Regions from separate parts of the Homo sapiens genome. Here all the other regions are linked to region 1. Evidence: fine-mapped QTL for protein levels in blood plasma. A gene starts in region 1. Each other region holds a variant in brackets. All regions are shown on one strand. Distances are from middle to middle.

Region 1 (4,313 bases):
GTCCACCACAGAGGCCACCACGCCCGCCATGCCCGCCCCTCCCCTGCAGCCGCGGGCCCTCAACCCAGCCTCCAGATGGTCCAAGATCCAGATTGTGACGAAGCAGACAGGCAATGAGTGTGTGACAGCCATTGAGATTGTGCCTGCCACGCCGGCTGGCATGCGCCCTGCGGCCAACGTGGCCCGCAAGTTCGCCAGCATCGCTCGCAACCAGGTGCGCAAGAAGCGGCAGATGGCGGCCCGGGAGCGCAAAGTGACACGAACGATCTTTGCCATTCTGCTAGCCTTCATCCTCACCTGGACGCCCTACAACGTCATGGTCCTGGTGAACACCTTCTGCCAGAGCTGCATCCCTGACACGGTGTGGTCCATTGGCTACTGGCTCTGCTACGTCAACAGCACCATCAACCCTGCCTGCTATGCTCTGTGCAACGCCACCTTTAAAAAGACCTTCCGGCACCTGCTGCTGTGCCAGTATCGGAACATCGGCACTGCCAGGTAGGCAGGCAGGAGTGCCCTAGGAGGTGCTGGTGTTGCGTGCGTGTGCTGGGGGGACCACACGGCTCACTTGCTGTGGGGAAGAGTTGCAGGCACCATTCTGCGTTCACGTTTGCTGAGGAGGAAGTTCAGAAGAGGCTCTGTGGCTGCATTCAGAGACCAGATCTCTGCTCAGGCTGAGGAGGCTCACCCCAGGGAGTGTCTGAACTGGGGCTGCCTGGCCCACCTCTGTGGCCCTGCTTCAGCGAGCTGCGGGGCACTGGCCTGGGTGGGCACCTGCCCCACTGTGACCAACCATCAGCAGTGCTGGAAGAATGGACATCTGGATGGGGGCCGAAGCCCAGGGCCCCCTCAGGAAGAACAAAGGGGCCAGTGCTTGGAAAAGGAGGCTTGGGAAGGGAGTAGAAGGGTGGGGTCCCCCATTCTGCTGTAATCGGTGCTTTCTGCCCCCTTGCACCCCGCATGTAGGCTCAGCCCCCTCTCCCCAAATCCCACTCCAGGGGCAGAAATCTCCTCTGGCTGCAGCTACTTAGCCAGGTTCTGGGTGGGTATGATGGAGGCCAGGTCCCCCCCGCCCCAGCAGCACTGCCCTTGTCACATTAAGATGGGGCAGCTGGGAGGTCAGAGGTTCTGTCTCAGGAACTGAGGTCTGGCCTTCTGCGATCCCAGGCTGAGCCGTGAGTGGTCCACGTATTCAGAAGACAGCCCCCTGCAGCCCCGGCCTTAGAAGGCTGTCCCAGGTCACACATCGAGTCAGGGTGAGGCTGTGGTGGATGGCATTCCCATCTGCCCTCTTCAAACCTCTCACCCCCTGGCTTCTGCAGGGTGGAGGCCTGGGTCACACAGGCAAGAGGAAAGGGGTCAACCTGGTGGCTCACTCGGGTTTCCATGACAGTGGGAAGGGGGGAGGTGGGCAGTGAGGTAGGCACGCAGCCCTCGCATCTGCTCTCCCCCATGGGTAGAACCTTCCTGATTGGCTGTGGGTTGTATCAAAAGACCTTTGACTGGGTGAGGCTGAGATGGGTGTGGTGGTTCCAGTGAGTCAGCCAGGTTCCCTTCCCCAGCCCTGGTCCCTGAGGGAGATGAGGACCGAAAGGCTTAGGTGACTTGATGGGGAGCACCCTTTCAGGGGCCCTGGAAGAAATGTTTGTAATTGTTCTGCTTTTTCCATGAGCTCTGGAGAGCACCCACCACCAAGCCCCCTGAAACCCACCAGTCCCTACAGCCTGGTCTTTCTCCCCACCTTCCCACTCCCAAACACATTTCCACAGCAAACTCCTTGGGAAGGGGCTTTTATATATTAAAAAAGAAGAGCTTTTATTGGGGGGAAAAAGTCAGTTTATTTGATGTGTTTCTTAGTAATGGAATTGTGGGGAAGAACAAAAGCGGGCTCTGGGACTCACATTGCTTTGGGGGAGGCTCAAGCTTCCCAGAATCCCTTGTCCCTCCCCACTTTGGGCACTTAGGGGTGGGGCTGGGGAGTGAGAGGGACAAGGCAGGGCATGATTGATTAAAGCTAACGAGCAGACAGAAGGCACTGGTGGGTCACATCTCGGGCCTGGGAGAGGGAGGGCGTGGGCCAGGCCCCATGTGACACCAGGGGCTCCTTGGCATCCAGGCTTGGCGTCTAGTCCTTTCCCTTCCCTTTCTTGGCTGTAAAACAAGAAAGAAATATTAATACCATATCAGCAGTTAGGCTGACCCATTGCAGACCGCCGGCTCCACAAACACCCGGGCATCAGGGAAGGAGAAGATTCTGCCCCCTAGTGGTTTCCAATCAGCTGACTCGGAAGCAGGGGATGGGGCAGCCATTGTGATGTGGACATGGGACATCCCCAGCTTCCTATTTCCACTTGGGATCAGAAAACCTTCAAGTTTCCAGTCCTAGTCCTGGTCACAGCAGCCCTGGGCATCCTCAGCCTCCTCACCTGAGAAGCGGGCAGATTCACCCCTGCCCTGCTGGCCTCGCTGGGCTGAGTCACGAGTGAGCTGAGAGGCCCAGGGTGGGCCTTGACCTCCTCCCAACACTAGAAAGGGCAGAGCTGACCAAATGCTGCCCGTGGCTGGAGAGCTGACAAAGGCAAGCCGTTCCAGGACACTCTCCCTGGGTCCTAAGCCAGATGCTCCAATGGAGTAGTTTGAGTTGGTCCCTATTTGGGCCAGGGAGGATTTATGTCCCCAGCATCACCTGCGGCCTCTCTTGTAGTGCCCATCTTCAGACTTTTCCAGGCAGGGAAGCCAAGTGAGGCGATGTCAGGAAGCCACTGGCCAGGACTCAAAACTTAAGGTTTAACTTGGAATTGTCCCCTCACAGGCGGGGGGGGGGGGGGGCAGCCCCCCGCGACAGCCCCACCCCCTTCTCCTTTCGCTGACCTTTGGCCTTTGCTTTGGTCTTGGGGGTGCAGGGCTTGGTGACGCGGATGGTCTCCTGGCACTGAGCATTGTAGCGCGCCTTCTTCAGGGTGCCTTGGCGGACTTTGGTGCCTGTGCCCCCATCACACGCACCCCAGTTCTCAAACTTGTACTTGCAGTCGGCTGGCGAGAGAGCGGCCCAGGTCAGCGCTGCGCGGCCCGCGGCCCCGCCCTCCGCCAAGGGTCCGCCCAGGCTTCGGCGAGGCTGTGCCCCCCGTCTCCTGCCCTCTGACTGCGCCCCGCCTCACCTCCAAACTCCTTCTTCCAGTTGCAGGGCACCCTGCACCGGATGCGCTGGGTCTGGGCCCCGCAGGTGCCCTCGCGGAAACCCACGCCGCAATCCTTGCTGCTGGGGGTGCAGGGCCCCCAGGCCCACTCAGCGCACTCGCTCCCCGGGCCGCCCTTCTTCACCTTATCTACAACGCGCGAGGAACAGAGTTCAGGACTGGGGCACGGGGAGACTCCCTCGGGAGCCGCCTTCCTGGGGTTCCAGGCTAGGAACCCAGGCGGCCCAGCCCAGAAGTGGAGGGGCCTCGCCTGCCCGTCCCCAGCCCTCCTTCGATCATCCCCCATCACCTTTCTTTTTGGCGACCGCGGAGGTGAGCGCCAGCAGGGCGAGGAGGGTGAGGAGGAGGAAGCCTCGGTGCTGCATCCTGAGGGGAGAGCCCGAGTCTGAATCCCTGGCCCGTCCCCTTCCCCACCGGGGGCCGCGTGCAGGGCCCTCCCACCTCCGCGTGCTCCACTTTCCAGGCCCCAAGTCGGGCTGCTAAGGTGGCGGCGGTGGGAAGACTTGGGGCGGCCCCTCGCCGCTAGCCCGGACGCACCGCTAAGAGGCGACTCCCCGGGGGACGCCTCGAGCCCAGGACGCAGCTCAGACCCCCACCCCCGCCTCCAGCCCCCAGCCCCTAGATCGGCCGCGGCCGGGCGGACCAGGGGCCGCCGCGCGCTCACTCGCTCGCTGCCCGCGCTGCTTCGCTCCCTCCCGCGCCGGGCCCGTCCCGCTCCGGCCGCCGCGGCCCCTTTTGTCTCCAGAACCGGTCTGAGCCGGTCACATGGGCCCCCGCCCCCTCTCCCCACCCCCCCAGGGAAGGACCCGCCCCGCCCCCTCCCCTCAAACCCGCACCGCCCCCGACCCCGGCGTCCCCGCCCCCGCTCCAGCCCGCGCCCCCCGCGCTTCTACTCCGGCGTCCGTGTTCCCGGCCCCGCGTCCTCGCGTCTCCCCGCCGGTGCCCTCTGCGCTGCGACGGCGGCCTCTCCCGGCCCCATCTTCCGAGCGGTGGTCTCCCGACCCCGGGCCCCGTCCCGCCCGCGCACACCGGCCCCCGGCCCACTCCCTGCGCCGCCGCCCGCTGCCCCCATCCCAGGTCGTCCCCTGCCGTACGCCAAGGCCCGGGCCGTTCTCA
Region 2 (4,313 bases), 670 kb before region 1:
TTTCACTATATTGTATTTTTCATGTCTAGAAATTCCATTTGGATCTTTTTAATATCTTCCACTAATCTCCTAATCATATTCATGTTTTCTTTACATACTTAAGCATATTTATATGATTTAAAATAACTATTTTAAGGTCCTTGTTAGTTAATTCCATCATCTCTGTCATTTCTGGATCTGTGTTTCTATTGATTAATTTTTCTCCTGGTTATGGGCTGTATTTTCCTGCTTCTTTTAATGTCTGGTAATTTTATTTTGTTTTGTTTTGTTTTTGAGACAGGGTCTTACTCTATTGCCCAGGCTTGAGTGCAGTGGTGCGATCACAGCTCACTGCAGCCTCAACTTTCCAGGCTCAAGCAATCCTCCCGCCTCAGCCATTAGAGTAGCTGGGACCACAGGTGTCACACCTGGCTAATTTTTTAAATTTTTTGTAGAGACAGGGTTTTGCTCTGTTGCCCAAGCTGGTCATGAACTCCTGGGCTCAAGTGATCCACTTGCCTTGGCCTCCCAAAGTCCTGGGATTGTAGGCATGAGCCACCATGCCTGGCCTGTCTGGTAATTTTGAATTGGATGTCAGACTTTGTGAATTTTGCATTGCTGAATGCTGGATTTTGTTAAATTCCTTTAAAGATTATTGAATTTTGTTCTTATATAGCATTAAATTACTTGCGGATCGATTTAATCCTTTTTGCTTTTAAACTGTTGAGAACTCTACCCAGTGCCCGGTGTGTTTTGAGGTCTCTTCCCTATGGCTGGTAGAAGTTTGAATTATCCTTAGCCCCTTGTATACTCCAGAAATTGTTTGGCCCACTGTTTTCTGGTGGTTCTTTTTCCAGCCCACACATATGCAGAATTTGTAGCCAAAGATTCTGGAGCTCACTGAACAACTTCTTCCTCTCTTGGATTCTGACCTGTAAATACTGGCTGCTCCAGCCTCCCTAAACCCCAGTCTCTGCCTCCTCAACTCAATAACACTGCTAAGCTCTTTGACAATCTCTCTCCCTATACTGTTGCTTGGAAACTGGCTCTCAGAATCCACAGCCCCCACTGCCTATTGCCCAATGTCTGAAAACTGTTGTTTCAGATATGCTGATTTTCTCATTGTTAGTGGCAAGAGGGCAATTCCCTTAGTAGATACTTCTTCACAGATAGAAGAGGAAGTACCTATCATTATTTTATCAAATGAAATATATATATGTATGTATGTGTATATATGTATATATTGAAAATTAAATTCTAATTGAAAATAAACTTGGAGAAGGCACTTTTGAGCCGATATCCCTAAACAGAAGTAAAGATTTACATTAAGAGAATATCAATCTTTGCCAGACTTAGAAAATTCAGATTAATATTCCTATACAGAAAAAATTAGCAAAGTGAGAAGTGTAATTTTAAAGGCTTTTAAAATTCTAATATAACTTTTGCTTCCAAGAGTCTAAAGTTGCTTAGATACCAAGAGGTTTGTTACAGTCTTCATGAGATTATCTAAAATTTGGACAAGATAATTAGCATCAGTACTCAGTCATGCAGAAAAGATATCATATCCTGTACTTGCTAAAAACTGGAATAAAATATTTTTTGTCAAAAGGGACCAGGTCCTTAGAGTTCTACAGGTGGCTTCATTTTTAGATATGTTATGCTCTTGTTTTGCTACCTCCCAGAAGAGTTACTTTCCACTTGATAATGCTAAAGTATGCACATGACATTCTAAGGAAGTTATCTGCAGAAGAATAATGCAGTAGGAGTTCCACTG[A/C]GTAGGTAGGTACCTGGCATTATAATTGATAAAATGGGGCTTAATAAATCCTTTCCTTTAGAACCTTGCCGCCAAGAGTTTTCACTAATTCCGGATTAAAATTGGAGATTGACACATTCTGGTTTAGAAAGATGTTCTGGAGTTTCCTAGAAAAAGCTGAGAATACATTAAAGCTACTTAACCAATTATTTTAGGAACACCTAGACACAGATGTTGCATTTAGTCTAAGAAATCTGAGGCTGTCTGATTAAGAAGGATAACAATAAACAGCCAGCATAAAATCTAGGTCTTGTTTATGGCACAAGGAGAAACTGGGGGAATTTGGAGCTGCTTATTCTTAGCAGCTGGATGAGTCACTGGCAGCTGCTATTAGAAAGATAAAGAAACCCACATCTGCTAAGAGTCCAAATGCTATATGAATCCCTCGTGATAGTAAATACATTCTTGAAGAGGCCCCACTTCTATATCAGGAAAAAAGTTAAGGCTATCTGAAGACTGTTTTCCATAGTTATCTCCATATGTTCTATCACAGAAACTAGCTCTAGCCATATTCTTCAACATGCAGCTGACCCTTGAACAACACAGGTTTCAGCTGTGCAGGTCCACACTTTTAGGTGGATTTTTTTCAACCAAATATGGATCGAAAATACACTATTCTAGGGATATGAAGCCCTGTATACGGAAGATTGACTTTTCACATATGAGAGTTCCACAGGACTAATGTAGGCCTTGATTATGCGTGGATTTTGGTATAAACAGGGGTCCTGGAACCAATCCCTGCATAGACTGAGAGACGACTGTACTAGGTGGTCTAAAACAAATATTTGCTGACTGAGTGAGGGACTGGGAAAGATAACCTCTGATAACATAGCACGAGCTTTACCTATATACTCACAGTTCCCAGTTTTGTTTACATAGAGACCAATGGAATAGTTTTTCTGAATTACTTAACTTAAAATTGAGTCCACATTGGTTTTTGCCTATTAGTGCATTTATTCTGTAAGGGAAATGATACGATCCTCAGTACACTAAGTACTTCTTTCATAATACTGTAATGGAGATGCATGATCTCCAGAGTTATATGTCAAAGAGGCAATGATTGAAGTAAAAATAGTAGAAATAGCACATCAGCATATTAGTAAATCTGGGTTCAATTTCTAGCTTTGCTACTAATTCACCATGAAATCTTTCTGCAAGTTACACAATTTCATTATTTACAAAATGGGCACAATAATACCCACTTTACCTATTTCTTAGGGCAGTGGAACTAATAAGATATTGGGTGGAAAAGTTTTAGAAAAGATTTAGTAACTACATATAAAAGTTTAATAGCTATATATTTAGTAGCTATTTAGAAAAGTTACAGTTTCGTAGCAGTAGCATTGATTAGAGCATGGTGGGGAATCTCATAAATTCAAAAGCAGGGAGACTACCTATTCACTGACTATAACCTCAGTGGGGAGGGGAGGGGAAGGAAGGAAGGGAGGGGAGGGAGGGAGGGGAAGGAAGGAAGGAACGAAGGAAGGAAGGCAAGAAAGAAGAAAGAAAAAGAAAAGCAAGCAAGCAAGAAATTGTCTTAAAGGTATTTATGAAAACACATAATATGAAAGTAGGAGACCAGGCATGGTAGCCCACGCCTATAACCCCAGCACTTTGGGAGGCTGAGGTGGACGAGTGGCTTGAGCCCAGGAGTTTGAGACCAGCCTGGATAACATAGCGAAACCCCAACTCTATAAAAAATAGAAAAATTAGCCACACATGGTAGTGCACAAATATATTCCCAGCTACTTGAGGTGGGAGGATCACCTGAGCTTGGAAGGTCGAGGCTGCAGTGAGCTGAGATTGTGTCATTGTATTCCTGCCTGGGTGACAGAGTAAAACCCTGTCTCCAAAAAAAAAAAAAAAAAAAAAAAAAAAAATTGAAATTTATTCTGTGGCTATTACTTGAAGGCTTTTAAAAAATATTCTTACCCAGTGGCCCAAGCCAAAAACTTGGAAATTACCACGGTCTTCTCTCTCATCTTAATGCCAAATCCAATCACCAAATCCTATGGATTCTATCTCTGAAAGTGCCCCTTCTGTCTCCATACTGCCTTAGTGTTGGGTCTAATCTCTCACTCAACTACTACCAGACTTCTATGTTCCTTGTCTCTAGTCTAGGCCATCTTCTACACTGCCTTTTGAATGATCTTTCTAGAGCTCAGATATCACCACACCACTCTCCTATCTAAAAGCCTTCAAATAAGATGGGGCATGGTGGCTCACATCTGTAATCCCAGTGCTTTGGGAGGCTGAGGCCTTGAGCCCAGGAGTTTGAGACCAGCCTGGGCCACACAGCAAAACCCCGTCTCTACAAAAAAATTTAAAATTAGCTAGGTATGGTAGGCATGTACCTGTAGTCCTAGCTAGTTGGGAGGCTGAGTTAGGAAGATCACTTGAGCCTGGAAGCTCAAGGTTATAGTGAACTATGATCATATGATCATGCCACTGCACTCCAGCCTGGGCAACAGGGTCTTTTTTTTTTTTTTTTTTTTTTTGAGACGGAGTATTGCTCTGTCAC
Region 3 (4,313 bases), 1.5 Mb before region 1:
CAACACAGGAAGTGGAAAGATAATCACAGAAAAACCACAACATGTGTTTTTAAAATGCAAAGCCCCTGGGAAGAGAAAGCAAATGATACAATAATGCCATTCACTCTGGCATCCTGTGCATTTGGTTTTGCTCTTTACTCTTTTTTTTTAACTTTAAACAATTTGTTATGAGAGTAACAAAGATACGGCTTATGATCTTGTAACTCTAATGCTCTAAATCAGAAACAGATGGTGCCTAGTGTACCCTGTTTCCTAGAAACTGCAGAACTTTGAGGACAACACCCTCTCTGCACTGCACCACTGATTTCAGTTCCTTCACAGATACTAATACATGGCTAAATAACGTGGTTGCTGAGTATTGTATTGGAATATCTGTTTTCCTTGCTCGGGAATCTTTTTGAAGTTTAAAACTTTTCTCCATTTTTATTCCTTTTTCTGATTCAAAAAGTAATTCCTTTTTATTGTGACAATTTTTAAAAATATGGAACAAAGAAAAAAATAAAAATCCCCATTCCCTTCCCACCCAGCAATAACCAACGACCACTGTTAACATGTTGACAACATTCTTCTAGTTATTTTTCTGCACACACAAACACACTTCATAGAAAACTGAATGTATAGAAATTGTTTTCTAATTGTTTTGTTCACTGAGCAATAAATACTTTACATTTTTTCACATCATCAAATGTTTATGATAATTGCCAGTATTCCATCATATTGGAGAAGTTAATTTATTTATCTTCCCACTTTTTCATTCAACAAATTCTTTTATTTTTTTTTGAGACGAGTCTCGCTCTGTGGCCCATGCTGGAGTGTAGTGGCATGATCTCGACTCACTGCAACTTCTGCCTCCTAGGTTCAAGCGATTCTCCTGCCTCAGCCTCCCAAGTAGCTGGGATTACAGGCATGCACCACCACGCCCAGCTAATTTTTGTACTTTTAGTAGAGACGGGGTTTCACCATGTTGGCCAACTGGTCTCAAACTCTTAACCTCAGGTGATCCACCCGCCTCGGCCTCTTAAAGTGCTGGGATTACAGGCGTGAGCCACCATGCCTGACCCTCTTTCAACAAATTCTAATTAACACCTACTATTTGTCAGAAATGTGCTCAGCACTGGATACACAGTGGTGAGCAAAGCAGGCAAAGATCTTGCCCCCATGGAGTTTAAAGTCCTCTATTGACCTATAGTTTGCTTGAGAACTTTTTTTATTTTAAAAAAATAGCACAGTGAGGCTGGGCGCCGTGGCTCAAACCTGTAATCCCAGCACTTTGGGAGGCCGAGGCAGGCGGATCACAAGGTCAGGAGTTCGAGACCAGCCTGGCCAACATGGTGAAACCCTGTCTCTACTAAAAATACAAAAATTAGCCAGGTGTGGTGGCACACACCTTTAATCCCAGCTACTCAGGACGTTGAGGCAGAAGAATCGCTGGAACCCAGGAGGCAGAGGTTGCAGTGAGCTGAGATCGCACCACTGCACTCCAGCCTGGGTGACAGACTGAGTGAGACTCCGCCTCAAAAAAAAAAAAGCTCAGTGAAATCTGGCAAACACTACCTCAGCTAAGTGACTAAGCTTAACATAATCAGCGAAAAGTCACGCAGACAGCATGTACCCCTGCTGCTGTGCTGGGACAAGAATGGCACTTTACCTCTGTGGTCTTCCTCTCATAACCCTAATCTAATCATGATTTTTTAAGAGAAAAATCAGACAAAAGACATTCTACAAAATACTTGTTCAGTACTTCTCAAAACTGTCAAGGGGAATTCCTGACTAGCTTGGGCAACATAGAGAGATTCCATCTCTACAAAACATTTAAAAATTAGCCAGGCATGGTGGCATGTGCCTGTAGTCCCAGCTACCCAGGAGGCTGAGGCGGGAGGATCACTTGAGCCTGGGAGATTGAGGCTGCAGTGAGCTATGATCATGCCACTGCACTCCAGTCTGAGCGACAGAATGAGACCTTGTCTCTTAAAATTGGGGGAAAAAAAGTATGGATTTTAGTTAATAATACTGTATCAATATTGGTTTATTAGTTTGGGCATGGTGGCTCATGCCTGTAATCCCAGCACCTTGGGAAGCTGAGGTGGGCAGATCACTTGAGGTCAAGAATTCAAGACCAGCCTGGCCAAAATGGTGAAACCCCATCTCTACTAAAAATACAAAAACTAGCCAGGCATGGTGGCAGGCATCTGTAATCCCAGCTATTCTGGAGACTGAGGCAGGAGAATTGCTTGAATCAGGGAGGTGGAGATTGCACTGAGCCGAGATCAGGCCACTGCACTCCAGCCTGGGTGACAGAGCGAGACTCTGTCTCAAAAATATATATATATATGTATTGGTTCATTAGT[T/C]GTGACCAATGTTTCATACTGTTACAGATAGGAAAGGGGTCCCGATCCAGACCCCAAGAGAGGGTTCTTGGATCTCACACAAGAAAGACTTCAGGGTGAGTCCGCAGTGCAAAGCAAAAACAAGTGTATTAGGAAAGTAAAGTGGTGAAAGGACAGCTACTCCATAGACAGAGTAGGATGTTCCCAAAAGTAAGAGGAGGAACGCATCCACCCTAGGTACAAAGCTTGTATATATGGGGAGATGTGCTCTGCTACAAGGGTTTGTGATAAAGGATTAAGTTTTTTTAATTACTATATTTTTCAAAAATCAATATTATTATCTTTAAAGCAAAATTAGGAATGCCTTTGTTCTCCAGATATCGGGATATCTGGACACTCCCAAGTCTGGGTCTGTTCAGTAAGCATTATTAATTTGTCCCCTTAGCCGTAAACATCTAGAGGTTAGGAATGCCTAACTTTCTGAGAATGTAGCTCAGCAAGTCCTGGCCTCATTTTTCCAGCCCTCACTCAAAATGGAGTCGCTCTGTTTCGAACGCCTCTGACAATACTAACATAAACTGTTAACAATAGGGGAGCTGGGGAGAGAGAATAGATGGAGTATACGGGAAATCTCTGTACTACCTTTACAATTTCTTTGTAAATCTAAACCTATTCTAAAATTAAATGTTTATTTTGGGAAAAAAAGCAAACACTGTGACAGTCATCCTTGTTTTTTGTTTGTTTTTGAGTCTCGCTCTGTTGCCCAGGCTGGAGTGTAGTGGCGCGATTTCAGCTCATTGCAACCTCCGCCTCCCAGGTTTAAGCGATTCTCCTGCCTCAGCCTCCTGAGCAGCTGGGATCACAGGCACGTGCCACCACACCCGGCTAATTTTTTTGTATTTTTAGTAGAGACAGGGTTTCACCATGTTGGCCAGCCTAGTCTCGAACTCCTGACCTCAGGTGATCCACCCGCCTTGGCCTCCCAAAGTGCTGGGATTATAGGCATGAGCCACCACGCCCGTCAATCCTTGTATCTTGAAGCATATCTGTGATTGTTTCCTTAGGATAAAACTCTGAGTGAAATTGCTGAGTCAACTGTACTGTACACATATTTTTATCCACTAGAGATTGTTCTTTTGAAATGTTATAGATGTTTTTCTGACTTTTTAAAGATGTTTATACCTATACCTTTATCTTAGCATTTTCCTAGTTGTGAACCAGGAAACCTAAGAGATCATGAAGCCCAGAGGCCTCATTTTACAGATGAGGAAACTGAGGCCCAGAGAAATGAAGTGACTTGCCAAGGCCAAGTGGTTAGTTAACAGTGGGAACTGGAACCCCTATTTGTGTCAACAGCAATCCCTACTGAACTGTCCCGGGGTTTGGCCAAATGAAGTAAAATTTTCTGGCTCATGGTGGAATCAGTGATCAACAGCCAGACCTGCATCTTTCTATTTCCTGTAGGTAAATACAAGGGTTTGCTTCCTTTGTTTTGGATATGGTTGCTAGGAGCTAAAAGCATTTTAAAATGTTTAAAGAATGGATTCAGACACAACTAATAGAATTGCCTGACTAAATGCCTGGGCAAATCACTTTTTCTTTTTGAGGTACTCCTTTCTTTTTTTTTTTTTTTTTTGAGACAGAGTCTCACTCTGTCGCCCAGGCTGGAGTGCAGTGGCATGATCTCAGCTCATTGCAACCTCCGCCTCCCGGGTTCAAGCAATTCTCCTGACTCAGCTTACTAAGTAGCTGGGATTACAGGCACACACCACTACACCTGGCTAATTTTTGTATTTTTAGTAGAGACTGGGTTTCACCATGTTGGTCAGGCTGGTCTTGAACTCCTGACCTCATGATCCACCCGCCTTGGCCTCCCAAAGTGCTGGGATTACAAGGGTGAGCCCCCGCACCTGGCCTTTTTTTTTTTTTTTTTTTTTTGAGTCAGAGTCTTGCTTTGTCACCCAGGCTGGAGTGCAGTGGCATGAT
Region 4 (4,313 bases), 1.3 Mb before region 1:
GCTCAAGTGACCACAACCCAACCCCTACCCTGCAGCCTCTGGACTAGGTGGGACTATAGGCACACGCCACCTCTCCTGCCTTTACCCCATTCTTTATAAGGGCACCTGTCATATTCCACAATTATTTATTTTTATTTTTATTTATTTTTTTTTTGAGACGGAGTCTTGCTCTGTGCCCCAGGCTGGAGTGCAGTGGCGCAATCTAGGCTCACCGCAAGCTCCGCCTCCCGGGTTCACGGCATTCTCCTGCCTCAGCCTCTCGAGTAGCTGGAGCTACAGGCGCCTGCCACCACGCCGGGCTAATCTTTTGTATTTTTAGTAGAGACAGGATTTCACCATGTTAGCCAGGATGGTCTCGATCTCCTGACCTCGTGATCCGCCCACCTCAGCCTCCCAAAGTGCTGGGATTACAGGCATGAGCCACCGCGCCCAGCCGGCCAGGCTGGTCTTGAACTCCCAACCTCAGGTAATCCGCCCGCCTTGGCCTCCCAAAGTGCTAGGATTACATGTGTGAGCTACCGTGCCCAAACTGCTTTATATTTCTTTAGTTATGAGTGACATTGTGCAGCTTTACTATCTTTTCAAATGTTTATTTCCTTTTATTTCCCCCATTAAAGTATGGGAGAAAGATTTAGATAGAAATGCAGGGGTCCAGAGTGAGCATAGGAAATGAGAAGGGATGGGGATAGCAGACAGAAGAAAAGAAGACAACGATCCCTGACACCAAGGGTGCCTCCTCTTCCTCTTTCTAGGGCCTATCAGTTTATCTTCAGCTGTGCACAGACAGATAGAAGCCATCAACAGAGGTATTTCATGTCCTTCCAGACCAGAAGATTCAAGCTCCTTTTTTGGACTATGTCTTCATCACCTGCTGTTCCCACCAGACCTAAGAATTACCAGACAGGAATGGGATTCATGCCTGATGAGCACTGAAGGACCCTCAGCCTTTAGTTCCCCCTTTCATTTCCATTTTTTTCTTTTTTCCTCATTCCCTTTCTTCTTTTTCTTTTTCTTTTTTTTTTTTTTTTGACACAGACTTTCACTCTTGCCTGGGCTGGATGCAGTGGCGCGGCCTCAGCTCACTGCAACCTCCACCTCCCAGATTCAAGGATTCTCCTGCCTCAGCTTTCCGAGTAGCTGGGATTACAGGCATGTGCCACCACGCCCAGCTAATTTTTATGTTTTTAGTAGAGACAGGATTTCACCACGTTGGCCAGGCTGGTCTCGAACTCCTGAACTCAGATGATCAGCCCGCCTCAGCCTCCCAAAGTTCTGGGATTACAGGCTTGAGCCACCACGCCTGGCCCCTCCTTTCTTTTTTATCTTCCTGAAAGCCTTTCTTTTCTTCCCTTTTTTCTCATTCTTTCTTTCCCAAGAGCTCTTCCTCTCTTCTGCCCCATCTCATGCCTTCTCTCCCCTTCCTCTTTCCATCTTCTTTGTTTTATGTCTGTCTTTCCTTTGTATGGTTATATTATGGCCCTGAAATTTTATTTATAGATTATTTCACTATAGTTGATAAAAAAGAAGAAAAAAAGAATAAAGTTTTATGTAATTTTTTCTAAAATGCTAATGGATATATTGAAATTTCCTCTCTTGCCACTAGCTAAACAAAAATAATAAAACATATTAAGTAACTTCTTATTCATTGTAACCCACTGTTGAAATGTCTTGGACCATTAAATTTAATTTTTAAAAGGTTTTTAATTTACCCTAAAGCTTTATATTTAAACATTTAATAGACTGTGCAGAATTTTAACGTTTTATAATTTTGAACCTGTTATTCTGGACTAAATCTTCTTGAAGGAGAAACATGTCAGAGAATCACATATCTGTGCTAATATTTTAATATAATGCTTAAAATAGTTTCATTGTTATAGATGAGCAGTAAAGTTCCCAAGGAGGAAAAGGAAGATGTTCACTTACTCTCTTTCCCTTTGGCAGATTCAC[A/T]TATGCTGAGTTTACCACATCTTAGGAGCAGACAGCTTCTTTATGATGAGTTGGATGAAGTAAACCCACGTCTTCGAGAACCCCAAGAGCTCTTTTCCATTTTGTCTACCAAGAGGCCACTGCAGGCTCCAAGATGGCCAATTGAATGTGAGGTCATCAAGGAAAACATCCATCATATTGGTAATATGACTTACTCACAGTGGTCTTGCTATTCTGCCTGACTTTTTTTTTTTTTTTTTTGAGACGAAGTCTCACTCTATTTCCCAGGCTGGAGTGCAATGGCGCAATCTCAGCTCACTGCAACCTCTGTCTCCCAGGTTCAAGGGATTCTCCTCCCTCAGCCTCCTACTGAGTAGCTGGGATTACAGGCGCACACCACCACGCCCAGCTAATTTTGCATTTTTAAGTAGAGACGGGGTTTCATCATGTGGGCAAAGCTAGTCTCGAACTCCTGACCTCGTGATCCGCCCACCTTGGCCTCCCAAAGTGCTGGGATTACAGGCATAAGCCACCAAGCCCGGCCTTCTGCCTGACTTTATTACAAGATCTGAGAATGTTAAGTCCTACGTGCTTAAGTATAAGGCAGGACAGAGTCAACATTTATTTATTTATTTATTTACTGAGACAGAGTCTCACTCTGTCACTCAGGCTGGAGTGCAGTGGCGCAATCTCGACTCATGGCAACCCCCACCTCCCAGGTTCAAGTGATTCTCCTGCCTAAGCCCCCCAAGTAGCTGGGATTACAGATGCCTGGCCACCACGCCTGGCTAGTTTTTTTTTTGTTTTTTTTTTTTTTTGAGACTGACTTTCGCTCTTGTTGCCCAGGCTGGAGTGCAATGGCATGAGCTCGGCTCACTGCAACCTCCGCCTCGCAGGTTCAAATGATTCTCCTGCCTCAGCCCCCTGAGTAGCTGGGATTACAGGCATGTGCCACCACACCCGGCTAATTTTGTATTTTTAGTAGAAACGGGGTTTCTCCATGTTGGTCAGTCTGGTCTCGAACTCCCCAACCTCAGGTGATCCACCCGCCTCGGCCTCCCAAAGTGCTGGGATTACAGATGTGAGCCACCACACCCGGCTAGTTTTTTATTTTTATTAGAGTCAGCGTTCCTCCATGTTGGCCAGGCTGGTCTCAAACTCCTGATGCTAAGTGATCCACCCGCCTTGGCCTCCCAAAGTGCTGGGATTACAGGCATAAGCCAGTGCACTCAGCCTAGAGTCAACATTTATTAACTCACCCTGGAAAAAATTAAACTGTGAGAAACTGATATAAACTCACCAAAATCAAGTTACACTAATGTGTAAACTAGAATGCTTCTGAGTTTTTCAGAATGAGAGGATACCTTCCTAGAAGCCAAAATATATAAATACTGAAATCTGTTTTCTAGATTAACCTGTTTCAGTGGTTTTTTTCTTTTCTTTTTCATTTTTTGGAGAGAGGGCATAGCATCTTATCTAAAAATACAGGGGTGCTACCCTGTCTCAGTATTAATGTGTTTGGTTGTGTGGTATTTTTACCAGTCTTGGTATAATTGAAGACTACATATACCACGACATAGTTTTTACAGTTTTTAATTAAATATAAAATTAATTTAATTTTATATTTTGAGTTTATTGGAGTTTTCTTGTCGGAATGGTGGAGACTTTTTTATGACATTATGGGTCATACCTGTGAGCTCTTGGAGCAAGTACAATCTTCTGCATCCATTTTATGGATTAAGCATTTATGGAATTGGGTTGCATTAGAAAGTGGGGACTTCTCTAATTACCAGAACAAGTCTAGCAAACATCACGTATGTCTCTGCTTTATACTACTGAATAAACAACTGGATGTTCCTTTTTTTTTTCTGAGACGGAGTCTTGCTCTATCACCCAGGCTAGAGTGCAATGGCTCCATCTCGGCTCACTGCAACCTCCGCCTCCCGGGTTCAAGCGATTCTCCTGCCTCAGCCTCTGGAGTAGCTGGGATTACAGGCACCCACCACCGCACCCAGCTAATTTTTGTATTTTTAGTACAGACGGGGTTTCACCATCTTGGTCAGGCTGGTCTCGAACTCCTGACCTCATGATCCACCCGCCTCGGCCTCCCAAAGTGCTGGGATTACAGCCATGAGCCACCGCACCCAGCTGGATGTTCCTCATTTTCTGTCTCCCTGCTTTATAATATTCGTTCATATGTGTTGTTATATGCTAAGTACAGTGCTTGGTGCTAGAGATAGTAGTGATGAGCAAAGTGGAGAGTTCATGGACCCAGAGTTCATGAACTAGTGGGGAAGTTAAACATTTTAACAGACAATTGCATAGTGCTTGGTCCCTCTGAGCATACCTAACCCAGCTTAGAGATCAGCATAAGTTTTCAAAAGGAG
Region 5 (4,313 bases), 1.6 Mb before region 1:
ATTAGCTGGGCATGGTGGCGGGCGCCTGTAATCCCAGCTACTTGGGAGGCAGAGGTTGCGGTGAGCCAAGATCGCACCATTGCACTCCAGCCTGGGCAATAAGAGCGAAACTCCGTCTCAAAAAAAAAAAAAAAGTCCTAACATTCAAGTCAAGCCCCAGTGAGGCTCATGGCCACAGCAGGAAGACAGCAGGATACTGCCTTTCCAAGTCAGAGATAGGGTTTTAGGTATTGCCTTGGGCTGAAAGAGAGCTGGATCCAGCTTTACCTGCTCCTCTCACACCCTCTGTTCCAGCCAACTGCCCCTTTCCCAGGCTTACCAAAGACCTTAAGCACCTTCCTCATGAGAATCAGTTTTCCATACTCTACCATCAAGTGTCTAAGTCACTAAGCCTCTGTTGACTGTTGCCCTGAGCCAAATGCTGTGGACACAGTAAGTAAGACTCGAACCTTCCACAATGACCTCATCATCTACCAAGGAAGACAGACCTTTCTCAACAGCTATGTCATAAGGGCTGTGGTGGAGATGCAGGGTGAGTGCTATAGAAGCTGAAAGATGTGATTTATTCCAAATTTACAGAGTCGGGAGGGTAGCCGACTTCAGGGAGAATGTGCCTTTTGTCCAGAGCCTTTTGAAGGATGAGTGGGGAGTGGGATTTCCATAATTGGGGGGATGAGCATTCCAGGAAGAGGAGCAGCATGAGCAAATCAGAGAGGGAAGAAAGTGCAGCATGTCTTGGGAACACCCGGCTGTCTGAGGCAGATGCAGCCTGGGCAGTCTGGAGGGATTCAGGGGGAGGGAACACTGGACTGCTAAGCTGAGGCCACACATAGGAGCTGACGCGCCATTTAGAGCGCCTAAAGGGCACTTGTAAGGAAGGTATGGAAGACCTTGAATGCCAGACAGGGAAATTTGGACTTAAGCTGTAGGGAGCAGTGGAGAGTCCTTGGAGGTGCAGGAAGGGAAGGAGACAAGGAACAGAAGGCTTTCTGGTGGGCAAAGAACTTGACCTTCGCCTCCTTGATACCAACTTTTGGCACCTGCTCTGCCTGCTCTGCATGTCATGTTCATTTCTGTGGCAATTCCGGTATCTGACCATCTGGATGGTGACTAACACCCACCTATTCTGACCCTATGGCAGGTGTTATGTCCCCTGGTGGCCTCCGGCATACACCAGCCCTGCCTACTGCTCAGAGGCCAGCAGGCATGATTTTATAGTTGAATTGGTTGCCAACTTTTAAAAATTAGGGGACATCACTTAACCTGGGTTTTCTGGGGCTGTACTTTCACATCGCAAGAAGCCGACTGGCAGCTGCTCCCTTTGGGTAGAACATGTAACCTCCAGTTTCCAATGGGGGCACCTCTTTTTAATCTCTAGGACTGAGAATAAACAGCAACTGCCCATTTATCATTTCACCAGGCTGCCCGAAAGGCCTCTGAGTTTGCAAGCCACAGCCACATTTAGCTTAGATGTATGCCCCCCCTAGATTCCAGGTCCCTCCAGGCCCAGGTGCTAACCCCTTTCCCAGATCCCATAGCCTGCCCACAAGATCCAGCACCCCACTTATTCCCATATACTCTCAGGCCTGCCAGATGGCACTGCTGAAAGAAATGAGAAGGCCCCTTAGGGGATTAGGCAGCAAGCCTAGAAGAAATTTAATATAC[C/G]TTTACTTTCCCTTCTATCACCCGAGAGCTCTGTAAACGCGACTGTTCCTGATTCCCTACTGTGTGGCAGGCCTTCTAAGCACAGCTCAAGAAATGCAGCTGAATGAGACAGGATCCCTGCCTTTGCTAGGCCTGGGGAGCTGGAAAAACTCCAGGTAGCCCTGGCGCAGATGCCACTCAGAATGAATGAAATGACAACACAGCTCATGCGTGAAACTCAGCAATCCACATACATTCTACAACCAAATGTTCAACACTCTCCAGCTAGTCAATGAGGCAGCAGGCACAGAGTTTCAAAACAGGGCTGATGTACAGTGCCTGACACTCATTCCCATTAGCAACGGCTGCTTGGGACAGATGCAAGGAAACTGACTCCACTACTTTGATCGTAGAAACAGTGAGAGAGATAGAAAAGAAAAGGTTGATCAGGGTAGAAAAATAGAAAAGAAATATAAGACCAGGCACAGTGGCTCACGCCTGTAATCCCAGCACTTTGGAAGGGCAAGGCAGGTGGATCACTTGAGGTCAGGAGTTCGAGACCAGCCCGACCAATATGGTGAAACCCTGCCTGTAGTAAAAATACAAAAATTAGCCGGCTGTGGTGGCATGCGTCTGTAGTCCCAGCTACTCGGGAGGCTGAGACAGGAGAATTCCTTGAACACAGGAGGCGGAGGTTGAAATAAGCAAAGATCACGCCATTGCACTCCAGCCTGGTCGTCAGAGTGAGACTCCATCTCAAAACAAAAAGAAAGAAAGAAAAAAAATGTAAGTGTGGTGCCTGTCTTCAATGAGCAAACAGTCTATTTGGGGAGCAGAACATGGAACCTTAGAGATTAATGAAGCCACTGACTGTAAGTGTGGGAGGAATGTGAATACAGGTGGGGGTCCAGGTGGGGGGCCTGCTGGATAAGGGGTGCTAACACTAGGTTTTCCTTTTTTTATATATATTTTTATTTTTTCACTTCCATCTCCTTTTCCTGATAAGCGTGGGGTTTTCCAAGAGGATTTTTGGATGGTGAGGTAGCCTAGGATGGCACACATAATCAAAATTCTGGTTTTGACCAAAAAAGTTGTGGATCTAATAAAAACTGGAATTGAAGAAATGATAAGAGATATTAAATTCCAATTTATTTATTTATTTATTTATTTATTTATTTATTTATTTATTTTTGAGTCCGAGTCTCACTCTGTCGCCTAGGCTGGAGTACAATGGTGTGATCTCGGCTCACTGCAATCTTTGCCTTCCAGGTTCAAGTGATTCTCCTACCTCAGCCTCACAAGTAGCTGGGACTACAGGCGCGCACCACCACACCCAGCTAATTTTTGTATTTTTAGTAGAGACGGGGTTTCACCATATTGGCTAGGGTGGTCTCGAACTCCTGACCTCACGATTGGCCTGCCTTGGCCTCCCAAAGTGCTGGGATTACAGGCATGAGCCACCGCACCCGGCCGGTAAATTCCCACTTTAATAAGAATGAAGTTCTAAAACCCAAAGAAAACTCTGATTCAGAAAGCCAAAGATTCATCCTGAGAATGGTTTTTCTACCTGGCAAGGCAGCTCCTCATCTCTAAGTGATCATACAAATGAATGAAGGGGCGTGCATGTCAGGGAAACTCATCGTGATTATTAGAATGGAAAGGAAAAACAAGACAAGAGGAGGAAGAGGTAGCAAGAATATGAACCACTGGCAGGCACCCTCTGGTTTAAGTTCTGGCAAACCTAACAGCTGTTTTGTTCAGGCTGCAGAGACTTCCAGCAAACTAAATTTCTACATCCTTAAGACACTCATTTTTCTCCTTGTTTTCTTACTCTTACTCTCTCGTCTACACTCTGGTTGCCTTATCCAAATAAGGATCTTGACACTTTATAACACGAAGCCATTTGTACCTCCCTAATAAGTAAATCAGCCCATACCATTTGGACAAAATTGTAACGGCTTTTACCCACCGCCCTATCCCACCCTATATTGAGTCCCATCCTGCACCGTGTGACTTGAGCCTTCAAATCCTTCTCCCCAGGCCCCACCAGGCCTATCCCCACCAGCTTCCCCTCAGCTCACCTACTTCCTCCTGCATCTTCCCAGAAAGAGTCCTTGGGTCATCTCATTCAGCCACTTCCACACTTCTTTGTTTATCAGAAACACACACACCGGCAAGAGAACCCTTTCTTCCCACAAACCAAAATCCAAAAATGAAATGAACCCACGCTGCTCTGGCTGAAGCAAGGATGGAGGTCCAGAAGCCTCTTTCACTTGGTCTTGGCACTACCCCCACATCCACCCCTTACCACAGTCTAAGAAAAGCACTGTGCAAGTCAAACTTCTTCATTTTACAGGTGTGAAATCAGCACCCCAGGGGAAAGGGTCTGGCCCAAGGACATACAGTGTTAGAAACAGGCCAGAAGCCAGGTTTCCAAACTCACCAGACCAGGACTCTTCTCATGGCCCCACGCTGCATCTTCATCATCTTAATTTTTTTTTTTTTTCTTGAGATGGAGTTTTGCTCGTGTTACTCAGGCTGGAATGCAATGGCACGATCTCGGCTCGCTGCAACCTCTGCCTCCCAGGTTCAAGCGATTCTCCTGCCTCAGCCTCCTGAGTAACTGGGATTACAGGCATGCACCACCAGGCCTGGCTAATTTTGTATTT
Region 6 (4,313 bases), 750 kb before region 1:
ACCAGAGGTGTTTTACACCCTTGATCCTATCTTCTCCAGAGGCAGCACAGCATAGCATTGTGGTTAATAGCATGGACTTTGGAGTTAGATTGTTCGGGTCCAAATCCTAGCTTTGCCACTGACTTCAAGTTACTTGACTTTTAAGCTCTCCATGCCTCAGTTTCCCCATCTATGAAATGACAGTATGAACATTGCAGAGTTGTTATGAGTTAATGTAAAGTGCTTAGAACAGTGTCTGACCCATCGTAAGGGCCATCTGTTAGTACTTGCTATTATTATTTTAGAAATAAAGAAACTAGGGCTCAGTGAGGTGTAATCATTTTCTCAAGGAAACAGCTAGGAAGAGGGCTGAGATTCAGACCTAGGCCTAGCACAGGCTCTGAAGGTCCTGCAAGTTCCACCCTAGCAGGTGGGATCCAGCTGGTTTGTGAAGGACTTCTGATGTTAGGATTATTCACACCAGGTGACTGACAGATTTTCTATCTAAGTTAAACATACAGGTACCCTTCAGGCAGGCCACTTTAAACAGCACAGGGTAGTTGGGCAGGGCAGTTGTATTAGTGCAGAACTCTGACTTTGCAATCAGATGACCTGGCTTCAAAAACCTGGCTCCACTACTTGCCACCAGCATGACTTAGACAAGCTGTACAACTTCCCTGAACCTTGGTTTCCTTGTCTTAAAAGTGTAAGAACTACAGTACCTACCTAATGGAATTGTTGTAAAAGATCAAAAGAGGTAACATATACACTTTTCTGAAAAAAGTTAGCAAAGTGCTCAATAAGTGGTAGCATTATTTTATAATTATTAACTGATTAAAACTTGAAGTCCTGAAATTAAGGAATCTTTGAACTTAGCTAAAGCAATCAGCACAATGCCTGGTGCATTGCAGTAAACACCTGTTGAAGGAATGAATAAATAAAAACATGCCTCACACAGTGACCCAAATAAAAATTCATAGGGAAAAAGTTCTGGTTACTGTGTGAACACAAAGATAGGGGGTCTCCAGGCACAGGAGGCATTTCTGCAAAATTACAGGGGTATGAGGAGAAACCAGGAGTTGTAAAGTGTGAAAAAAGGAAAATCCCCTACGTGCTAGGTACTATAACTGTCAGTAAACATGATAAACCATGACCAGTGTACTACACTTCATGGGCTTGTTGGCCTTTGCACCAAGTGCTCAGTTCAATCAGCTTGAATATTTCTTTTCATAAGAATGTATCACTGATTTTCCTTTTTTTTTTTTAACAGAGTCTCACTCTGTCACCCAGGCTGGAGTGCAGTGGCACAATCTCGGCTCATGGCAACCTCTGCTTACTGGGTTCAAGCGATTCTCCTGCCTCAGCCTCCCGAGTAGCTGGGATTACAGACATGCATCACTACGCCAGGCTAATTTTTGTATTTTTAGTAGAGGTGAGGTTTCACCATGTTGGCCAGGCTGGTCTCGAACTCCTGACCTCAGGTGATCCACCCGCCTCAGCCTCCCAAAGTGCTGGGATTACAGGCATGAGCTACTGCGCCAGGCCATGTCACTGATTTTTCCATGAAAACCAAAGGAAGCCTAGGGTTCACTTCACAGAAATTCACTTTATTGCTGTTACAACTCTAGCATGAATACTACTGCTTTCAAGATAAGCACTGCCCTGACTCAAAATATTCTTCTGTTGGTTATATCCACTCTAATCCTAGAGAGTGTTAGATGAATTTACTTTAGCTAAGAAAATTAGTCAGAAATTATTGATTCCCAATATATTCAAGGGCTAACTCATTCTCATTTGTAGGAAAAGGATGTCTTTTTGACATCTGGTCTGCCTTCTTGCTGTGGCAAGTCCTGCTTCTGAAGCTCTGTGGGAGCAGCTTAGTCATTTCTACATCCTCCTTGCAGACCACCATGCGTGTCCACATTTGCTCAGAACTGTGGTGGAATATAGCTGTAGATCGGATACCTCTCCTCTTCCTGGGAAATGGTACCTTTGCCAGGATCACAGTGGTGTCACTAAAGAATACCCATGGA[G/A]GAGTGCCAGATGGAAGGAAGTGGGGCCATATATTCATTCCTTCAGAGAAAACCTTCCCTAAAGCCTGAAGTCAAAGACTTTTAGCTCTAAATTTATGGGGGATGAAATGGGGCTCAGTCTAAATTCATTTGTGTGAGTGCCTATATGTTGGTTGAGTGAGCTAGTGCTGGACAAGAGCTAAAGATAATGAAATGCTACAAGCCATGGGAGTCCCAGAGGACTGAACAGCCTCTAGTTTGTTGGCTGCATGATCTCAATAGTACTACCACAGAGGCCAGAGAATACCACAGCCCATGTGTGGACTCTCCAATTTTCAGCTGCAATTGTTTTTATGTTCTTTTATGCAGGGGTTGTGAAGGCTCACTCTAAATGACACTCATCCTCAGCCAGGCTGCTCTGCCAAGAGATGCTCGGAAGGACATGGATAGTTCGGGGCATGACCACACCACCCCTTCCAATCCCTGGGGCACCAAGGCTTTGTTACCAGGCCACAGCTGAGTAAATACTTCTCAGTGCTACTCTGTGAGGAGGGGGAAGGGAGTGAGGGACAGTGTGGGGGAAGGGAAGAAGGAGGCAAGACATCTGACGACTTCACTCCCCATGTAGCAGTTGGTATCACATGTCACAGAAAGATTGCTACCCTACTAGGGCCATGTTCCTGTCAAGCAAAGCCCCAGAAGAAGAGAAGGCTGTGTTATTCAATTTTATCTCCTCTGGCAGCACTGTTGTTTTATATTATAAATGGAGGGAAATGATAATTAGTTGACTGAATGGGAAATGACCTTACAAAAGGAATAAGAGGCAATGGCCTCGAATGACACCTGTGGGGTAAAGTATTTGGGCCATTATGAACACTACCCTTTGCCAGCTCATTACTCCCCAGAGCATCTTCAGTGTGTTCCAATGGGGGCAGAAAGCCCCTTTAGTTTTTTTTTGGTTTTTTTTTTTTTGAGACAGAGTCTTGCTCTGTCGCCAGGCTGAAGAGCAGTGGCGCTATCTCGGCTCACTGCAAACGCTGCCTCCCGAGTTCAAGCGAGTCTCCTACCTCAGCCTCCCGAGTACCTGGGACTACAGGTGTCTGCCACCATGCCTGGCTAATTTTTGTACTTTTAGTAGAGATGGGGTTTCACCATGTTGGCCAGGATGGTCTCCATCTCTTGACCTCGTGGTCCGCCCGCCTCGGCCTCCCAAAGTGCTGGGATTATAGGCGTGAGCCACCGCACCCGGCTGCCCCTTTAGTTTTATATTTTATTATGACTAAGCCAGACACCAAGCTAGAAATGTATTTAGTCTATTTCTATTTGGCAGTATCTTTGTTCTAGGCAAAGTATTAAATCAGACACAGTAACAATTTTATGGCAACGTTTAAAATGAACAAAAACAACTCTCCAGGAACTGTTTATATACAGCAGGTAAAGATTTAAAGAAATGCAGGCATTTCTAACCAGGATCTCAACATTCTACCCAGGGTCATGTAGGACATACCATGGCAATCTGATCAGGTTTTTAGGCTAACCATGGCCATCCTGAACCACCACTGGTGGCTTAAACCACAGGCCTGGTCTGATAAGAATCCCCTATACTGTGTCGAACCCTTGGGGGTCTGTTCATCACGATGGGGCCATTAGGGATTGGAGGACCAAGGCAAGGCTTTGTTCTGGGGGAGGTCCTGTCTTAGAAAGTGTGAGGATATGAAACACAGGCTGCATATGGCGAGGGTGGGCAGCCGTATGCATTGTGGAAGGAGGCACCAGTGCTAGGAGAAAAGAAAGCCTCTCTAGTAGCAACGGGGCTAGCTACTCTGGCATGGACACAGTTTCCTACCCATTATTGAGGAAATGGAAGGCAGTTTTGGACACTAGAATGTAGAGCAGGATCTTGGCACCATAAGCTCTCAAAGGCTCCGGCAGCCCATCAAAGAAGTGACTCCAGCCTAGAATTTGCACCACCACTCACGTGCTCATGCAGCTCCACCAGGTGTTACCACTTCCAGTTTTTCTTTGGAAACAGGAGGACAGGGTGGGCCCTTTGAAACGGACAACTCAGGGCCAAGTTATAATTCTCCTCCAAGAAGCAGGTGTTGTTACAAACTCCTGCAACCCATTCCTGTTCTTAATTGAACAGAAATGGTTAAACAGGCACAAGAGCTAAACTGGAGAATAAACCTTAATCCCTCCTAATGGTGACTAAAGGCAAGAGAAAACATCACACCCTCCCAATGGTGATATACCTCACTCAACCTTTGAAAAAGAGGCAGAATTTTAAATTTATTTCTGGGGGGTGTTTAAAGCCAGAATGAA
Region 7 (4,313 bases), 180 kb after region 1:
ATCCCTCGAATGTGCAGTTCACAGTAGGGTTCGCACTCCTATGAGAATCTAATGCTGCTACTGATTTGACAGGAGGCAGAGCTCAGGCGGTGATGCGAGCTAGGAGTGGCTGTAAATACAGATAAAGCTTCCCTTGCTTGCCTGCCCACTGCTTGCCTCCTGCTGTGCAACCCAGTTCCTAACAGGTCACAGACCAGTTGGGGATCCTTGATTTATGATATTGGATAGCCTCTTACAAGGTATTAAAAATGATGTTTGCTCATAGAAAAATATACTAAAATGCCAGTAGACATTTTAATTAGAAGGATTACGGATGATTTTAATTTTCTTCTTTGCAATTTTCTATATTTTCCAAAATTTCTACCATCAATTATTATAATTAGATAAGAAGTTTATTTTTATTTTATTTTTTAAAATTTTATTTATTTATTTTTGAGACTGAGTCTTGCACTGTCGCCCGGGCTGGAGTGCAGTGGCACGATCTCGGCTCACTGCAACCTCTGCCTCCCAGGTTCAAGCGACTCTCCTGCCTCAGCCTCCCGTATTTATTTATTTTTGAGACAGAGTCTCGCTCTGTCACCCAGGCTGGAGTGCAGTGACGCGATCTCAGCTCACTGCAACCTCTGCCCCCGGGTTCAAGCTATTCTTCTGCCTCGGCCTCCTGAGCAGCTGGGATTACAGGCGCCCGCCACCACGCCTGGCTAATTTTTTGTATTTTTAGTTTCACCATGTTAGCCAGGATGGTCTCGATCTCCTGACCTCGTGATCCACCTGCCTTGGCCTCCGAAAGTGTTGGGATTACAGGCGTGAGCCACCGTGCCTGGCCAATGTCTATTTTTTTTTTTAATTCTAGCCATCCTAGTGGGTATGAAGTGGCATCTCACTGTAGTTATGATTTTCATTTCCCTACTGACTAATGATCTTGGGCATCTTTTCATTTGTTTACTGGTCATTGGTATATCTTCTTTGGAGAAAAAAATATTTAAATCCTTAGCCTATTTAAAAAATAGTTTATCTGGGCCGGGTGTGGTGGCTCACACCTGTAATCCCAGCACTTTGGGAGGCCGAGGCAGGTGGATCACGAGGTCAGGAGTTGGAGACCAGCCTGGCCAACATGGTGAAACCCCATCTCTACTAAAAATACAAAAATTAGCTGGGCGTGGTGGCGAGCACCTGTAATCCCAGCTTCTTGGGAGGCTGAGGCAGGAGAATCATTTGAACCCAGGAGGCAGAGGTTGCAGTGAGCCGAGATTGTGCCATTGCACTCCAATCTGGGCAACAGGGTGAGACTCCATCTGAAAAAAAAAAAAAGTTTATCTTTTTATTGTTGAGTTGTAAATGTTCTTTATAAATTCTGGACACTAGTCCTTTATCAGATATATGATTTGCAAATATTTTCTCCCATTCTGTGGGTTTTCTTCTCACTTTATTTATTTTTTTTTTTGAGATGGAGTCTCACTCTGTTGCCCAGGCTGGAGTGCAGTGGCGCGATCTCGGCTCACTGCAAGCTCCACCTCCCGGGTTCATGCCATTTTCCTGCCTCAGCCTCCGAAGTAGCTGGAACTACAGGCACCTGCCACCACGCCCGGCTAATTTTTTTTTTTTTTTTTTTTTGTATTTTTAGTAGAGACAGGATTTCATCATGTTAGCCAGGATGGTCTAGATCTCCTGACCTCGTGATCTGCCCGCCTCGGCCTGCCAAAGTGCTGGGATTACAGGTGTGAGCCACTGCTCCTGGCCTCTTCTCCCTTTTTTGATGGTCTCCTTTGAAGCACAAGTGTTTACATTTGATGAAGTTCAATTTATCTGTTTTTTCATTTTAGTTTGTGCTTTTGGTGTCATATGTAATAAACCATTGCCTAATTCAAGCTCATGAAGATTTACGCTTATGTTTTCTTCTAAGAGTTTTTGTAGTTTTAGCTTTTACATTTATGTCTTTGATCCATTTTGAGTTAATTTTTGTAGACGGTTTGAAGTAGGGGTCCAACTTCATCCTTTTCCGTGTGGTATCCAGTTGTCCAAGCACCATTTAAAAAAAAGACCATTCTTTTTCCATTGAATTGTCTAGACATCCTTGTTGCAAACCAATTGACATAAATCTAAAGGCCAGATGACATTTTTGTCTTAATTTCTAGCCTCATCAGACCTCTTAATTTGCCAAGCTTTCCCCATCCTTGATGCTTTTGTAGAGACTGGTTCCTTGCCTGACATCCACCTGTCTTGGTAGCTGACCCTCCTCATTCTCCAGACATTACCTGTCTCCACAGTTTTCCTTTGTCCCCTAGGCAGTCAGATTCTGCGGTCTAGGAGCATTTTGCTCATACCTCTGTCATTGCTCTATTCACATTGTATTGAAGTTATTTATTCAT[T/C]AGTCTGCCTGGATACACTCAGAGATCTCCAAAAGCAACCAAGTCTTACTTCTCTTTGAAGCGCATAGCACAGGACCTGGCACTTAAGAGGTATTTTGTGAACGGTAGTTGAATGACCATTGACAGAAGTATCTGCAAATTGGGACTCTGCTGAGGACTTCAATGGCAAGAGAAAAGGGCCAATTATTGGATCCCCGCTTCCCCTCTTCTCTCTTTCTCCAAGTCCAGAGAACAGTATTCAGGCATTTGTTCAAGAAGTTTTAAATAAGTATCTATTATGTGCTAAGCTAGATGCTAGGGATCACGTGGTGAGCACAAACAGCCATGCCCCTTCCTTACTGATGTGTAGAGTGGGTGATGTGTGTAGTAGGTGAAATCAACATTAGCCAAATAATCATATAAACATGAAAAATGGGAGCACCTGTCGTCAAATTGTCTATTGTGTGGTCTTACCTGCCTGCTCACGTGTTTATTGATAATTTGGCCACCTGGCTCACTGACTTTCTCTCCTGCTGTCACTGTCATGGTGAATTTAAGATCCACATACATGGCCACGCATCATCTTGCCTCCATTCTTTTTTTTTCCTTTTTGGGACAGAGTCTCACTATGTTGTCCAGGCTGAAGTGCAATGGCACGATCTTGCCTCACTGCAACCTCTGCCTCCTGGGTTCAAGTGATTCTCCTGCCTCAGCCTCCTGAGTAGCTGGGATTACAGGTGTGCGCCACCACGCCCAGCTAATTTTTGTATTTTTAGTGGAGACGGGTTTTCACTGTGTTGGCCAGGCTGGTCTCGATCTCATGACCTGATGATCCACCCACCTCAGCCTCCGAAAGTGCTGGGATTCCAGATATGAGCCACCGCACCTAGTCACCTTGCCTCCATTCTTGATGCCTCCATGCCATGATGCCTCCTCCACTCCACCTTAGCCATAGAGCCCCACACAAACCTCATCATAACCACAGCGCTGCTCAAGTTTCCCTTTCAATCATCCTGTTAGACTGTGGACACAGGTATTCCTTACTCAGTTGTCTTAGAACTCCCATTTCAGCAATTTCCTACCCCTGTTGGGGTCTTCAGTCCACTGACCCCCCCACCGCTTTTTCACTGTCCTTCACCACCCATGACCCAGGCCCTTCATTTCCTCATTATGCCCCAGTGTCCTCATCGCTCTGTAATTGCTCCGTAACACCGTTATAATACTCTTGCCCTGCTGCACTCATCTGCCACACCCCAACCCTGCTTCAACTCAAGGGAGAACTTAACTTTTCGTGCCTCCATCTGGGCACTGGAACATGGCTTGAAGAAAATACCCACAGCTGCCCAGACACGCCTCATTTTATACTGAAGTCTGCCAATAAGTGGCTGTTTTTGCATTGCCCAACAATCCTACTTCAGTATCTCAGGCACTCTGCCTCTCTTCAAGCCGTTTTATACCTTCTCTTTCTTTAACTCTAATATCCTTCTCTTGCCTGGTTCTCAGCTGATGATCTCATCTTCCTATTCACGGAGAAAATAGAGGCCCTCAGAATGCTCATTACCCACTGCTAAACTTACCCACTTCCAACCGCTGTATGTGCAGGCCCTGCCCTCCCTCGTATTGCAAATTGCAAACCATCCTTATGCGTGTACAATGCCCATCCCTCCCCTGGGGTCCTGAATCCCGTTTGCCCTCACCTATTCAAGGACTTTGATGAAATGATCTCTCTCATGAATCACTGACGTCTCCCTCTCTATGGCGCTTTACCTTTCAGCACACAGGTATGCTGTAATACTTACCATCTTCAAACAAAACACAAACCAAAACAGAAACACCTTCCGTAGAACTCATTGCTCCCTGGCTCTTTGCACTAGCTCTGTGTTCCTTATTGTAGCAAAATTTATCAAAAGAGTTGTCTACGTGTCCCTCCAGCCCCATTTGGTCATTTCCCAATTTGCTGCCTCA

Alleles and levels. Alleles are on the strand shown, and positions count from the first base shown. The strength of an association depends on the size of the effect and on how common the allele is.
With allele C in place of A in region 2, the plasma level of the protein whose gene starts at base 3,951 in region 1 is higher (moderate association).
For the plasma level of the protein whose gene starts at base 3,951 in region 1, allele T in region 3 goes with a lower level than allele C (moderate association).
For the plasma level of the protein whose gene starts at base 3,951 in region 1, allele A in region 4 goes with a higher level than allele T (moderate association).
For the plasma level of the protein whose gene starts at base 3,951 in region 1, C is the high allele of the variant in region 5 and G is the other (moderate association).
With allele G in place of A in region 6, the plasma level of the protein whose gene starts at base 3,951 in region 1 is higher (moderate association).
For the plasma level of the protein whose gene starts at base 3,951 in region 1, C is the low allele of the variant in region 7 and T is the other (moderate association).

The links. PIP is the chance, under the fine-mapping model, that this variant and not a neighbour inherited with it causes the effect. The UK Biobank Pharma Proteomics Project read protein levels with antibody pairs (Olink). The fine-mapping took linkage between variants from a reference panel, not from the people measured, so its PIPs are less certain.
Region 2: its variant is fine-mapped to the plasma level of the MDK protein (UK Biobank, PIP above 0.99).
Region 3: its variant is fine-mapped to the plasma level of the MDK protein (UK Biobank, PIP 0.92).
Region 4: its variant is fine-mapped to the plasma level of the MDK protein (UK Biobank, PIP above 0.99).
Region 5: its variant is fine-mapped to the plasma level of the MDK protein (UK Biobank, PIP above 0.99).
Region 6: its variant is fine-mapped to the plasma level of the MDK protein (UK Biobank, PIP above 0.99).
Region 7: its variant is fine-mapped to the plasma level of the MDK protein (UK Biobank, PIP above 0.99).

The regions. Positions count from the first base shown.
Region 1 is chr11:46,381,307-46,385,619 of GRCh38, reverse strand. It overlaps MDK (midkine), which reads right to left and starts at 3,951. Exons shown (of 5, transcript NM_002391.6): 1 at 3,862-3,951; 2 at 3,487-3,563; 3 at 3,159-3,326; 4 at 2,872-3,033; 5 at 1,819-2,151. The coding sequence starts at 3,562. The coding sequence ends at 2,126. It overlaps CHRM4 (cholinergic receptor muscarinic 4), which reads left to right. Exons shown (of 2, transcript NM_000741.5): 2 at 1-1,831. The coding sequence ends at 502. RefSeq lists silencers at 2,967-3,261, 3,237-3,286, 3,707-3,816, 4,247-4,313.
Region 2 is chr11:47,054,288-47,058,600 of GRCh38, reverse strand. The region is part of intron 3 of CSTPP1 (centriolar satellite-associated tubulin polyglutamylase complex regulator 1); the gene reads right to left. Among named protein-coding and RNA genes, the nearest start is that of CSTPP1, 120 kb to the right of the region's middle. RefSeq lists an enhancer at 797-1,346. The variant A/C (reference allele first, on the strand shown) is at 1,754.
Region 3 is chr11:47,859,250-47,863,562 of GRCh38, reverse strand. No RefSeq gene overlaps it. Among named protein-coding and RNA genes, the nearest start is that of NUP160, 13 kb to the right of the region's middle. RefSeq lists enhancers at 334-383, 1,769-1,838. The variant T/C (reference allele first, on the strand shown) is at 2,349.
Region 4 is chr11:47,702,357-47,706,669 of GRCh38, reverse strand. It overlaps AGBL2 (AGBL carboxypeptidase 2), which reads left to right. Exons shown (of 19, transcript NM_024783.4): 5 at 753-806; 6 at 1,036-1,149; 7 at 1,942-2,127. Among named protein-coding and RNA genes, the nearest start is that of AGBL2, 11 kb to the left of the region's middle. The variant A/T (reference allele first, on the strand shown) is at 1,948.
Region 5 is chr11:48,022,305-48,026,617 of GRCh38, reverse strand. All of the region lies in intron 1 of PTPRJ (protein tyrosine phosphatase receptor type J), which reads right to left. Among named protein-coding and RNA genes, the nearest start is that of PTPRJ, 44 kb to the right of the region's middle. The variant C/G (reference allele first, on the strand shown) is at 1,666.
Region 6 is chr11:47,128,906-47,133,218 of GRCh38, reverse strand. All of the region lies in intron 3 of CSTPP1 (centriolar satellite-associated tubulin polyglutamylase complex regulator 1), which reads right to left. It overlaps LOC124902671 (a long non-coding RNA gene), which reads left to right. Exons shown (of 2, transcript XR_007062666.1): 2 at 2,361-4,313. Among named protein-coding and RNA genes, the nearest start is that of ARFGAP2, 46 kb to the left of the region's middle. The variant G/A (reference allele first, on the strand shown) is at 2,013.
Region 7 is chr11:46,203,264-46,207,576 of GRCh38, reverse strand. No RefSeq gene overlaps it. Among named protein-coding and RNA genes, the nearest start is that of LINC02710, 14 kb to the left of the region's middle. The variant T/C (reference allele first, on the strand shown) is at 2,370.